2 separate regions of the Homo sapiens genome follow, and region 1 is linked to region 2. Evidence: fine-mapped expression QTL. A gene starts in region 2. The other region holds a variant in brackets. All regions are shown on one strand. Distances are between the middles of the regions.

What was found. PIP is the estimated chance that this variant, and not a neighbour inherited with it, causes the effect.
Region 1: its variant is fine-mapped to the expression of OTUD1 in whole blood (TOPMed, PIP above 0.99).

The regions. Positions count from the first base shown.
Region 1 is chr10:23,851,869-23,854,770 of GRCh38, forward strand. It overlaps a transcript of KIAA1217 not described here. Among named protein-coding and RNA genes, the nearest start is that of KIAA1217, 360 kb to the right of the region's middle. The variant C/T (reference allele first, on the strand shown) is at 1,408.
Region 2 is chr10:23,437,318-23,440,219 of GRCh38, forward strand. OTUD1 (OTU deubiquitinase 1) reads left to right here and starts at 1,758. Exons shown (of 1, transcript NM_001145373.3): 1 at 1,758-2,902. The coding sequence starts at 2,141. RefSeq lists silencers at 1,487-2,076, 2,127-2,466, 2,607-2,902.

The sequences.
Region 1 (2,902 bases), 410 kb after region 2:
TTTCTTGTAAATTTGTTTGAGTTCATTGTAGATTCTGGATATTAGCCCTTTGTCAGATGAGCAGGTTGTGAAAATTTTCTCCCATTTTGTGGGTTGCCTGTTCACTCCGATGGTAGTTTTTTTTTGCTGTGCAGAAGCTCTTTCATTTAATTAGATCCCATTTGTCAATTTTGGCTTTTGTTACCATTCCTTTTGGTGTTTTAGACATGAAGTCCTTGCCCACGCCTATGTCCTGAATGGTAATGCCTAGGTTTTCTTCTAGGGTTTTTATGGTTTTAGGTCTAAAGTTTAAGTCTTTAATCCATCTTGAATTAATTTTTGTATCAGGTGTAAGGAAGGGATCCAGTTTCAGCTTTCTACATATGGCTAGCCAGTTTTCCCAGCACCATTTATTAAATAGGAAATCCTTTCCCCATTGCTTGTTTTTCTCAGGTTTGTCAAAGATCAGATAGTTGTAGATAAGCGGCGCTATTTCTGAGGGCTCTGTTCTGTTCCATTGATCTATATCTCTGTTTTGGTACCAGTACCATGCCGTTTTGGTTACTGTAGCCTTGTAGTATAGTTTGAAGTCAGGTAGGGTGATGCCTCCAGCTTTGTTCTTTTGGCTTAGGATTGACTTGGCGATGCGGGCTCTTTTTTGGTTCCATATGAACTATAAGTAGTTTTTTTCCAATTCTGTGAAGAAAGCCATTGGTAGCTTGATGGGGATGCCATTGAATCTGTAAATTACCTTGGGCCGTATGGCCATTTTCACAATATTGATTCTTCCTACCCATGAGCATGGAATGTTCTTCCATTTGTTTGTATCCTCTTTTATTTCATTGAGCAGTGGTTTGTAGTTCTCCTTGAAGAGGTCCTTCACGTCCCTTGTAAGTTGGATTCCTAGGTATTTTATTCTCTTTGAAGCAATTGTGAATGGGAGTTCACTCATGATTTGGCTCTCTGTTTGTCTGTTGCTGGTGTATAAGAATGCTTGTGATTTTTGTACATTGATTTTGTATCCTGAGACTGCTGAAGTTGCTTATCAGCAGAAGGACATTTTGGGCTGAGACAATGGGGTTTTCTAGATATACAAGCATGTCACCTGCAAACAGGGTCAATTTGACTTCCTCTTTTCCTAATTGAATACCCTTTATTTCCTTCTCCTGCCTAATTGCCCCGGCCAGAACTTCCAACACTATGTTGACTAGGAGTGGTGAGAGAGGGCATCCCTGTCTTGTGCCAGTTTTCAAAGGGAATGCTTCCACTTTTTGCTCATTCAGTATGATATTGGCTGTGGGTTTGTCATAGATAGCTCTTATTATTTTGAGATACGTCCCATCAATACCTAATTTTTTGAGAGTTTTTAGCATGAAGAGTTGTTGAATTTTGTCAAAGGCCTTTTGTGCATCTATTGAGATAATCATG[C/T]GGTTTTTGTCTTTGGTTCTGTTTATATGCTGGATTACATTTATTGATTTGCATGTATTAAACCAGCCTTGCATCCCAGGGATGAAGCCCACTTGATCATGTTGGATAAGCTTTTTGATGTGCTGCTGGATTCGGTTTGTCAGTATTTTATTGAGGATTTTTGCATCAATGTTCATCAAGGATATTGGTCTAAAATTCTCTTTTTTGGTTGTGTCTCTGCCTGGCTTTGGTATCAGGATGATGCTGGCCTCATAAAATGAGTTAGGGAGTATTCCCTCTTTTTCTATTGATTGCAATAGTTTCAGAAGGAATGGTACCAATTCCTCCTTGTACCTCTGGTAGAATTCGCGTGTGAATCCATCTGGTCCTGGACTCTTTTTAGTTGGTAAGCTATTGATTATTGCCACAATTTCAGAGCCTGTTATTGGTCTATTCAGAGAGTCAACTTCTTCCTGGTTTAGTCTTGGGAGGGTGTGTGTGTCGAGGAATTTATCCATTTCTTCTAGATTTTTTAGTTTATTTGCGTAGAGGTGTTTATAGCATTCTCTGATGGTAGTTTGTATTTCTGTGGGATTGGTGGTGATATCCCCTTTATCATTTTTTATTGCATCTATTTGATTCTTCTCTCTTTTCTTCTTTATTAGTCTTGCTAGCAGTCTATCAATTTTGTTGATCCTTTCAAAAAACCAGCTCCTGGATTCATTAATTTTTTGAAGGATTTTTGTGTCTCTATTTCCTTCAGTTCTGCTCTGATTTTAGTTATTTCTTGCCTTCTGCTAGCTTTTGAATGTGTTTGCTCTTGCTTTTCTAGTTCTTTTAATTGTGATGTTAGGGTGTCAATTTTGGATCTTTCCTGCTTTCTCTTGTGGGCATTTAGTGCTATAAGTTTCCCTCTACATGCTGCTTTGAATGTGTCCCAGAGATTCTGATATGTTGTGTCTTTGTTCTCGTTGGTTTCAAAGAACATCTATATGTCTGCCTTCATATCATTATGTACCCAGTAGTCATTCAGGAGCAGGTTGTTCAGTTTCCATGTAGTTGAGTGGTTTTGAGTGAGTTTCTTAATCCTAAGTTCTAGTTTGATTGCACTGTGGTCTGAGAGACAGTTTGTTATAATTTCTGTTCTTTTACATTTTCTGAGGAGTGCTTTACTTCCAACTATGTGGTCAATTTTGGAGTAGGTGTGGTGTGGTGCTGAAAAAAATGTATATTCTGTTGATGTGGGGTGGAGAGTTCTGTAGATGTCTATTAGATCCGCTTGGTGCAGAGCTGAGTTCAATTCCTGGGTATCCTTGTTAACTTTCTGTCTCGTTGATCTGTCTAATTTTGACAGTGGGGTGTTAAAGTCTCCCATTATTATCGTGTGGGAGTCTAAGTCTCTTTGTAGTTCACTCAGGACTTGCTTTATGAATCTGAGTGCTCTTGTATTGGGTGCATATATATTTAGGATAGTTAGCTCTTCTTGTTGAATTGGTCCCTTTACCATTATGTAATG
Region 2 (2,902 bases):
GACCTGAGCTGGGACCCTGCCAGTCATACTGCCCAAAGATAATTAAAAGCCCTGGCTAGGGTCAAGGGACCTGGATAGTAATCTTGGCTTCACCACTGTCTGACAAACCTTGGAAACTCGCTTTCCATCTACTCATTCACTTAGTAAATATTAATTAGGTCCAATTATGTGCCAAGCACGGTGTTAGGGGATGGAAATATAAGAGCAAGACCCAAGTCTCTCAATTCCTGGAATTCACATTCCACCGGAAAGGTGGGGACCGGAGTACAGCCTACATCACCTACAGGTTCAGTCTCCCTATCTCTAAAATGTTAGGACAACCTCTGGGTTCAATTCGAATGTTTAGGCCCTGTTAATTTAGCATTTGATCACAGCTCAGAATATAGCAAAAGTCTCCCACTACCTCTGGCTTTCCCTTACAAAGGCGGGTATTACAAAAAGACTCGGTAGAAGTATTTTCTATAGTCTATCTTGCCCCGGAATGCAGGTCACGACTTTCTCCACCGCTTTTGACCTCTGGCTAGCATTCACACCTATTCTCAAAGGGCCCTAAGTGATACTGCATTTGGTATTCTGAGAAAGCTTGTTTATAAAAGCCTAAAAGGCTTCCTTGCTTTCCCCCAAGCCAGATATTTGCCAAATGGCATAGGTCAGAGGTGCAAAGTTGGTTTTGTCTTAGCAAGGCAAGAGAATCCACTAGCGGACTCACCCTTACCGGTGAGTCCAAGGAAATGCATAGAAAAGACACAGTGGTAAAACTAGCTGGGCACCTGTAATCCCTGCCCAAGGCAAGGCTGAGGAAGGGGGATCACTTGGGCCCTGGAGGTCGAGGTCGCAGTGGGACATGATGGCGCCACTGCACTCAGCCTGGAAGGCAGAGCAAGACCTTGCCTCAAAAAGAAAAAGAAAAAAAAAAAAAGGAAAAGACGCGGCGGTTCCACGAGTGGTGGCTAGGACCCATAATCCCAACACTTTAGGAGGTCGAGGCGGGAAACAGCTTGAGGCCAGTAGTTCGACACCAGACTGGGCAACTGTGGTGAGACCCTCGCCTTAAAAAAAAAGAAAGAAAGAAAGAAAGAAAATTAGCCGGGTGCGGTGGTGCACACCTGTGGTTTCCAGTTACTCTGGAGGTTGAGGCGGGAGGATCGCTTGAGCCCGGGAAGTCAAGGCTGCAGTGAGCTATGGACTGCGCCACTACACTCTAGCTTCGGAGACAGGTAAGACCCCCATCTCTAAAAAGATAAAAGAAAAGAGGCAGTAGTGAATGCAAGCAGGGATGGTAGCCCATGACCAGCAGAGGCCAAACAGACTTTAAGGCAGCATTCCGTTCTCCACACCCATGCCGGAAGCTTTCCTGCCACGCAAGCTTTCCGAGCATGCTAACTCGCCCCAAGCAGCTCCCATCCCGCAGCATCCACTGCAGCCGCTGAGGAGAGTGGCGCAGCGCAGAAACCAGTGCCCAGTGCCCAGGTGGGGGAAGCGGTCCGTGGGAGTCACGTGGGCGGGAGGCCCAGCCAGGATCCCAGGACTGCTCAGGCCTCCGCGCCCCCGGCCTCGCCCCGCCCGCGCGCGCTCGCGCGCCGAGGGCCACGCCCGTGACGTCGGCGGAGCGCGGTAGGGGGCGGGGCGCGGGCCGGAGTGGGCGGGGCGAGCAGGCGCGACTGAATCGGGCGCCGCAAAGAGCCGCGCATTCCAGTGAGTCCACGTGACGCGGCCGCGAGGCCTGAGGTAAACAACCGCGGCCCCGCCTCCCGGGCCTCCGCGCGCACCGCGCTCCTCCTCGCCGGCGGGACGCGCTCCAACGGGGCGGGCGGCTTCCTCCGTGAGTCCCCAGCGGCCGCCGCGGGCCGAAGCAGCTGCAGCGGGCGCGGCGCCCCGGGTCTGCGGGCCGAGCGCACCGGCAGGGGTCGAGCTCGCGTCCCGTCCCCGCCCCCCTGCGCTGTGGCGCAGCAGGAATTTGGCCGGGACCCGGGCGCTATTCGCGGCTGCTGACTCGCGGCGGCCGGCTGCCTTTCGCTCATCTCTATTCTGGGGCCGTTGGGTCACCGCGCTCCGCCGGCCCCCTCCCCCGGGCCCGGAGGGTGTGTCCCCCGCTCCGGGGCTCGCCGCGCCTATAAGGGGCCGAGCGGCGGGCAGGGACATGCAGCTCTACAGCAGCGTCTGCACCCACTACCCCGCCGGGGCCCCGGGTCCCACGGCCGCCGCCCCCGCGCCACCCGCCGCCGCTACCCCCTTCAAGGTCTCGCTGCAGCCCCCGGGAGCCGCCGGCGCCGCGCCCGAGCCCGAGACCGGTGAGTGCCAGCCCGCCGCGGCCGCCGAGCACCGGGAAGCCGCCGCTGTCCCCGCCGCCAAGATGCCCGCCTTCTCCTCCTGCTTCGAGGTGGTGTCCGGGGCCGCCGCGCCCGCCTCCGCCGCCGCCGGCCCGCCCGGCGCGTCCTGCAAGCCGCCGCTGCCGCCGCACTACACGTCCACCGCACAGATCACCGTGCGGGCCCTGGGCGCCGACAGGCTCCTGCTGCACGGGCCCGATCCCGTTCCCGGCGCCGCGGGCTCCGCCGCTGCCCCGCGCGGCCGCTGCCTCCTGCTCGCCCCGGCGCCCGCAGCCCCGGTCCCGCCGCGGCGGGGCTCCTCGGCCTGGCTCCTGGAGGAGCTGCTGCGGCCCGACTGCCCCGAGCCCGCGGGCTTGGACGCGACACGGGAGGGGCCCGATCGGAACTTCCGACTGAGCGAGCACCGCCAGGCCCTGGCCGCCGCCAAGCACCGAGGCCCCGCGGCGACCCCGGGGAGCCCCGATCCCGGCCCCGGTCCGTGGGGCGAAGAGCACTTGGCGGAGAGGGGCCCCAGGGGCTGGGAGAGGGGCGGCGATCGCTGCGACGCGCCCGGTGGGGACGCGGCGCGGAGG